2 linked regions of the Homo sapiens genome follow. The protein of the gene in region 1 binds, or shares a complex with, the protein of each later gene. Links are inferred from orthologs where the notes say so. Each region holds a gene or a part of one and is shown on either strand. Other genes may lie near its edges. The genes, in order: F2RL2 and F2.

Region 1 (3,917 bases):
CCTCAGTCAGACTAAAAACAGATTGTAGCTTCTCCCCGATCCTGTCTCCTTGTCTCCCTCCAACTCAGTTAATGGCATCCTCTCCCTCCAAGTCATCTAGAGTAGAAACCTGAGTCATTATTGCTTCCTGCCTCTCCCTCACTGCACCCCAAAGCCAATCAGAACCAAGTCCCTTTAAGCCGCCATCAGAGTCTCACGTGTTCGCCTCTGCCTTTCCATAACCACTGTTCTAGCTCAGTAACTCACTGAGCTATGAATGATGACAGTAGCCTCCAAATCAGGTCCCCTTGCCTGTAATTTCTTACCTTTCCAATCTGTTCTCTACACTATTACCTAAGTCATCTTAAAAACAAGTCAAAATAACGGCTATATTCGTTTCCTACTGCTGCTATATCAAATCATTACAAACTGAGTGGCTTAAAATAACAGATTATATTTCTGGAGATCAGAGGTCTTAAAATCAAGGCTGTTGGTGGGGTTGTGTTCATTCTCGAGGCTCTAGGAGAGAATCGGCTATCTTGCTTTTTTCAGCTTCTAGAATCTGCCTGCATTCCTTGGGTTATGACCCTTTCTTCCATCTTCAAAGCCAGCAGCATAGCATCTTCAAATCTCTGACTTTGACAACCCTCTTACCTTCCCCTTATATGGACTGTTATGATTATATTTGACCCACCCAGGCAATCCAGGAAAATCTCATTTTAAGATCCTTAACTGGCCGGGCGCGGTGGCTCACGCCTGTAATCCCAGCACTTTGGGTGGCCGAGGCGGGCAGATCACGAGGTCAGGAGATCGAGACCATCCTGGCTAACATGGTGAAACCCTGTCTCTACTAAAAAAATACAAAAAATTAGCCAGGCCTGGTGGCGGGCGCTTGTAGTCCCAGCTACTGGGGAGGCTGAGGCAGGAGAATGGCGTGAACCCGGGAGGCGGAGGTTGCAGTGAGCTGAGATCGTGCCACTGCACTCCAGCCTGGGCGACAGAGTGAGACTGTCTCAAAAAAAAAAAAAAAAAAAAAAGAAGATCCTTAACTAAGTTAGATCTGCAAAATCCCTTTTGCTAGGTAAAGGAATATACTTGTAGGTTCCAGGAATTAGCAGGTAGAATCTTTGCGGGGGGCTACTATTCTGCCTAACACAATGGTCATTCCTCTGTTCAAAATTGTGTGTGCAATCCCATCATCTGTGAATAGACATATGATTTCTTAGGACAGTTTAGAGGCCCTTCAGGAATTTAGCTGTCACCCACTCTTTCAATTTCCTTTCTCAGCTGCACTTTATTCGCATAAGACAATGCATTTTTATGCATCTTCTCCACGAGTAGCATTACTTACAGATAGAAATGGATTTTATTTAAAACTTTACACCACTGACACATCAATGTACAATAAAAATTTGCTAAATCAACTTATCTGGCATTCCCAGATCCCATGATAGCCCACACTATGCTTCTGTCCATTCATCACCAGCAGAATCTTACTCATTAAATTCCATCTTTTTAGGAACCTTGCTAGTCTTTGCTCAAGTTCATCTTTTCCTTGACATTTTGCTCAAACATCTGAATCTATTAAGTATTGTCTGAATGCCTGTATAGTTTGTAGTCAACATGCCTATAATGTTCTGATGGGCTGTTTTTGTTTCTTCTAATAGTATTATAAACACTTTACATACAAGGACTGATCATTTAGTTTTTGTTTCCGCACAAGATAGTGTTGTTCTGGGGCATATGATATGTATTAAATATATGCTTGTTGACTGCCTAATCTACAATAACTTTTTAAAATAAAAATGATCTTAAATTCTACAATCACAGAAATTATTTACAAATAATTAAACACACTTTCTTTTCTCTTGAACTATACATTTATGTTAATACTTTCTTTCAATTACAGGCATGGAAAATGATACAAACAACTTGGCAAAGCCAACCTTACCCATTAAGACCTTTCGTGGAGCTCCCCCAAATTCTTTTGAAGAGTTCCCCTTTTCTGCCTTGGAAGGCTGGACAGGAGCCACGATTACTGTAAAAATTAAGTGCCCTGAAGAAAGTGCTTCACATCTCCATGTGAAAAATGCTACCATGGGGTACCTGACCAGCTCCTTAAGTACTAAACTGATACCTGCCATCTACCTCCTGGTGTTTGTAGTTGGTGTCCCGGCCAATGCTGTGACCCTGTGGATGCTTTTCTTCAGGACCAGATCCATCTGTACCACTGTATTCTACACCAACCTGGCCATTGCAGATTTTCTTTTTTGTGTTACATTGCCCTTTAAGATAGCTTATCATCTCAATGGGAACAACTGGGTATTTGGAGAGGTCCTGTGCCGGGCCACCACAGTCATCTTCTATGGCAACATGTACTGCTCCATTCTGCTCCTTGCCTGCATCAGCATCAACCGCTACCTGGCCATCGTCCATCCTTTCACCTACCGGGGCCTGCCCAAGCACACCTATGCCTTGGTAACATGTGGACTGGTGTGGGCAACAGTTTTCTTATATATGCTGCCATTTTTCATACTGAAGCAGGAATATTATCTTGTTCAGCCAGACATCACCACCTGCCATGATGTTCACAACACTTGCGAGTCCTCATCTCCCTTCCAACTCTATTACTTCATCTCCTTGGCATTCTTTGGATTCTTAATTCCATTTGTGCTTATCATCTACTGCTATGCAGCCATCATCCGGACACTTAATGCATACGATCATAGATGGTTGTGGTATGTTAAGGCGAGTCTCCTCATCCTTGTGATTTTTACCATTTGCTTTGCTCCAAGCAATATTATTCTTATTATTCACCATGCTAACTACTACTACAACAACACTGATGGCTTATATTTTATATATCTCATAGCTTTGTGCCTGGGTAGTCTTAATAGTTGCTTAGATCCATTCCTTTATTTTCTCATGTCAAAAACCAGAAATCACTCCACTGCTTACCTTACAAAATAGTGAAATGATCTTAGAGAACAAGGACAGCCATCACAGAGAACGTCTGTTTTCAAGAACAACATAAGCATAGTGCAAGGAGCTCCATTTCCGAGCTCCTAAGAAATATGCTTCAAAGGTCAAACATTACAAAAGCATTAGTAGTTTGTTTGTTTGTTTTTGAGACTGAGTCTCACTTTATCACCCAGACTGGCGTGCAGTGGCACTATCTTGGCTCATTGCAACCTCTGCCTCCCAGGTCAGCCTCCCAAGTAGCTGGGATTACACCACCATGCCCAGCTACTAAAAATACTTGTATTTTTAGTAGAGACGGGGTTTCACCATGTTGACCAGGCTGGTCTTGAACTCCTGACCTCAAGTGATCTTCCGGCCTCAGCCTCCCAAAGTGCTGGATTACAGGCGTGAGCCACTGAGCCAGCCAGCATTAGTAATTTTTAAAAACACTTTATCAGTATTTTAAAAATGTTAATGCAGGAGAAAAGATATCACAACTCTATGGAAAATGACATTTCCATTTGCCTTATTGCTACTTCAAGCTCTTTAAATCACCATCTTCCCTATTTCTGTGAGTGGTATTGCCATCCTTGACATTTGACATCATTTTTTATTCTTTGGTCTCTTTTGACTCTCATGCTGGTGGCTGCCTCATCAACTGATTCTATCTTTGTAGGGTCCCTCACCAGGGTCTTTTATCTAGTTTCACCTTTGCCTTCTTTTTTCCTTTTTTTAATAGAGACAGTGTCTCGCTTCGTCACCTGGCTGAAGTGCAGTAGCCTGATCATAGCTCACTTCAGCCTCCAACTCCTGGGCTCAAGCAATCCTGCTGTCTCAGCCTCCCAAGTAACTAAGACTACAGGCATGCACCACCATACCCAACTAATTTTATTTTTTATTTTTTGCAGAGATGGAGTCTCACTGTTGCCCAGGCTGGTCTTGAACTCCTGGTCTCGAGTGATCTTCCTATCTCAGCC
Region 2 (3,917 bases), on another chromosome or scaffold:
TGAGTAAAAGTCTGCAAAGAGGCCGGGCAGTGGCTCATACCTGTAATCCCAGCACTTTGGGGGGCCGAGGCAGGTGGATCACCTGAGGTCAGCAGTTCGAGACCAGCCTGACCAACATGGTGAAACCCCATCTCTACTAAAAATACAAAATTAGCTGGGCGTGGTAGTGCATGCTTGTAATCCCTAGCATGCACTTGGGAGCTACTTGGGAGGCTGAGGCAGGAGAATCACTTGTACTCAGGAGGCCGAGGTTGCAGTGAGCTGAGATCACGCCACTGCACTCCTTTCTGGGTGACAGAGTGAGACTCCATCTCAAAAAAACAAAACAAAACAAAACAAAAACAAACAAAAAAACCCAACAGGTAGGTAGCAGTGGTTCACGCCTGTAATCCCCACTTTGGGAGGCTAAAGTGGGCAGATCACCTGAGGTCAGGAGTTCACGTCCAGCCTGGGCAACATGGTGAAACTCTGTCTCTACAAAAATACAAAAATTAGCCAGGCATGATGGCGGGTGCCTGTAGTTCCAGCTATTCGGGAGGCTGAGGCAGGAGAATCGCTTGAACCTAGGAGGTAGAGGTTGCAGTGAGCCGAGTTCACGCTATTGCACTCCAGCCTCCATCTCAAAAACAAAACAACAAAAACCCAAAATATATATTATAATTTTATTTTATTTATTCAATTTTATTTTATTTTATTTTATTTTTCTAGGAACAGGTCTCATTCAGGCCAGGCATGGTGGCTCACGCCTGTAATCCCAGCACTTGGGAGGCCGAGGTGGAGGTGGGCGGATCACCTGAGGTCAGGAGTTCGAGACCATCCTGGTCAATGTGGCGAAACCCCATCTCTACTAAAAATACAAAAATTAGCCAGGTGTGGTGGCACACGCCTGTAATTCCAGCTACTTGGGATACTGAGTCAGGAGAATCACTTGAACAGGGAGATGGAAATTGCAGTGAGCCGAGATTGTTCCACTGCACTCCAGCCTGGGTGACAGGGCGAGACTCCGTCTCAAAAAAAAAAAAAAAAAAGAAAGAAAGAAAGAAAGAAAGAAACAGGATCTTACTCTGTTACCCAGGCTGGAGTACAGTGGTGCAATCATAGCTCACTGCAGCCTGGAACTCCTGGGCTCAAGTGATCCTCCTGCCTCAGCCTCCTCAGTAGCTCAGACTGCAGGCATGCACCACCATTCCCAGCTAATTTTTAATTTTTTTTTGGTAGAGATGAGGGTCTTGCTATGTTGCCCAGGCTGGTCTCAAACTCCTGGCCTCAAGCGATCCTGCCATGTCGGCCTCCCAAAGTGTTGGGATTACAAGTGTGAGCCACTATGCCTGGCCTAAAAATATATATATGAAAATATATAAGAAATGGGCCTCCCAGGAATTAAGGTGTTTGCGGGAGTCCTGGTCCCCAGTTTTTCTGCCAACACTCCCTGTTCCCACACATGACCTGGTCCAGACCCCAAACAGCCAGGCCCAAAGGACAGGTGAGGCGAGGCGAGAACTTGTGCCTCCCCGTGTTCCTGCTCTTTGTCCCTCTGTCCTACTTAGACTAATATTTGCCTTGGGTACTGCAAACAGGAAATGGGGGAGGGACAGGAGTAGGGCGGAGGGTAGGGTAGGACCAGAAGCCTCTCTAGGCCTGCCATGGGGCAGGCAGCCAGGGAGAAGGAGGGCCCCTCAGTGGAGACCCAGGGATTTCAGTAGCCCCTGTTCCGGGACAGGCGCAGGTCCTGGGAGGTGACAGAAGATAGACTAAAGGCCCAAGAGTCCCTGGACCTGACTCCTCCCAGGCAGCTGCCACACACAAACACACCTCCAGGCACCCTGGACAGGAAGGAGGAGAAATGGGCCCCTCCTCCAGTGGCTGAGAAGCTGGGGCAAATGTTGGCTGTTCCTATCCCTGGTGCATCCCATGGCGAGGGGCAACTTCCATCAGGCCACACCTTTTATCTTTGTCTCTATTTTTGATATCTGTGTATTATGATTATACAAACCCCCACATTGGCCTATATGTGCAGATCTGATTAAGAACTTACGATATTCCATGGACATTCCATTCCTAATCTCCTTTAGTCCTCACAACAAAGTATTATTCCCATTGTATAGATGAGGAAACTGAGGCACACAGAGATGACAAGCAACCACCGCTATATGTTAGGATTCGAAGGAGCTCCAGGAAAGTCTCATAGCCCCACTGGCCAGAATGGGCTAAATCTCAGAGGGGGAGGGTGGGAGATGGGGGTGACAGTGACCTTTTTTGTGACTCCTCCTAGACCATCCATCCCTGCTCCCAGGAGGACCTGTCCTCCCAGATGGTGGAGATGGACAGGAGGACTATCTACCCACCCGTCCCCACGGCCCTGACCCTCTGACCTCACCCTCTCCGCTGATTTCTTCATGTTAGTTCAACATTAACCCAGAGGGGTCAGGACAGACAATTCCTCAGTGACCCAGGAGCTGACACACTATGGCGCACGTCCGAGGCTTGCAGCTGCCTGGCTGCCTGGCCCTGGCTGCCCTGTGTAGCCTTGTGCACAGCCAGCATGGTAAGGGAGTGCTTGCAGGCTGGAACAGGCTGGAGGACTGGGGTGTGGGCCCATGGGCTGGGGTCTCCTGGCTGGACAGAGCACACAGAGCTGGCCCCTAAGTAGGTCTCAGCCCCAGGCGGCCAGCTTAGGGAAGAAGTCAGGAGCTCAGGGCTGGAAAGAGAATGGCTGCTTCTCTCTTCCAATATAGGGAGCAGGCTGGGGGCAAGGGGCAGTGTAGGAGGGGCACAGGGGGCCACATTTAGCAGCCTTCCAGGCACTTCCACCAGCCCAGACAGCCTCTCTCAGAAGCCAGCAGGGGAGGGTGGGCTTGCTTCATGCCCCCAGAATGGCCAAGACTGCCTGTTCCTGAGGCCGCTGTCCCATGACCCCCCCACCGCCTTACAGTGTTCCTGGCTCCTCAGCAAGCACGGTCGCTGCTCCAGCGGGTCCGGCGAGCCAACACCTTCTTGGAGGAGGTGCGCAAGGGCAACCTGGAGCGAGAGTGCGTGGAGGAGACGTGCAGCTACGAGGAGGCCTTCGAGGCTCTGGAGTCCTCCACGGCTACGGTGAGCCTGGGCTGCTCGGACGGTGCCGGGGCCTCAGACCGGGCCCAACTCTAGACACTTCCACAGAGAAGCAAGCGAGGAACGCCACAGCCCCTTCGCTGCTCACAGCCTCATTTCAACTCTGAGCCCCTCCTCACAGGGCTGGCAAGAGGAGCGGCCTCAGCCTTTCCTGGGGGTCTCTGTGCCTGGACTGTGTCCCTGTGCAGCTCCATGACATGGGGAGGCCTCCACAGTCTTCAGACATCCACCTGCCCTGGAGCTCTGTGTCCACATGGCCTCCTCAGCGGCAGACTCCCACACCACCCTTGAGGGGTGGGACTCTGGGGAGGCCACCACAAGCCCCCGGGCTCAAGACTCAGTGTTCCTGGAGCTCTGTGTCGCCTTTCCTGTCTGTAGGGCTCTGCCAGGGTCCCACTGCCCCCTCTCCTCCCATCTCCCCCAGCCTCTTTCAGTCTCGGTGTGTGTGTTGGAGGAACTCCCCTATCCTCAAATATTCTTCTCCTTTTGGAAACAAAAGTAGGAAACTCTGCCACAAACCTCCCCAGAGCCTGCCCCCTGCGTGACCAGGGTAAAGGAAAGTGTGAGGAGGAGACATAACATTTACTAAAACAACACAAAACAGGAGCTGCCGTAGCCTCACTCCCAGCCCTTGTTTTTCAGGATGTGTTCTGGGCCAAGTACACAGGTGAGCACCGGGAAGGATTTGCCCCAGGAAGGGAGGCCTGGGGACCCCAGTGAGAGAATTCTACCCAGAGAATCTTCTGCTGCACCTAGCCATCCACCCATCCACCCCTTCCCCACTCCTTCCTTGGTCCCTCCCATCT

What was found.
Region 2: the proteins of F2RL2 (region 1) and F2 are in contact, whole or in part, in a crystal structure (PDB 2PUX), measured with the Mus musculus proteins. The link is inferred for Homo sapiens from one-to-one orthologs. Residues at the interface, in NP_034300.3 of Mus musculus: Thr46, Phe47, Glu48, Glu49, Phe50, Pro51, Asp54, Ile55, Glu56; in NP_034298.1 of Mus musculus: Phe379, Gln384, Glu385, Leu386, Leu420, Arg422, Arg428, Thr429, Arg430, Tyr431, Arg433, Lys437, Ile438, Ser439, Met440, Lys467, Pro470.

The regions. Positions count from the first base shown.
Region 1 is NC_000005.10:76,616,614-76,620,530, reverse strand, and holds part of F2RL2 (proteinase-activated receptor 3 isoform 1 precursor), read left to right. Parts: intron 1-1,888; coding exon 1,889-2,949; 3' UTR 2,950-3,917. UniProt on the Homo sapiens protein: Receptor for activated thrombin coupled to G proteins that stimulate phosphoinositide hydrolysis.
Region 2 is NC_000011.10:46,716,770-46,720,686, forward strand, and holds the start of F2 (prothrombin preproprotein), read left to right. Parts: upstream 1-2,443; 5' UTR 2,444-2,466; coding exon 2,467-2,545; intron 2,546-2,932; coding exon 2,933-3,093; intron 3,094-3,753; coding exon 3,754-3,778; intron 3,779-3,917. UniProt on the Homo sapiens protein: Thrombin, which cleaves bonds after Arg and Lys, converts fibrinogen to fibrin and activates factors V, VII, VIII, XIII, and, in complex with thrombomodulin, protein C. Functions in blood homeostasis, inflammation and wound healing.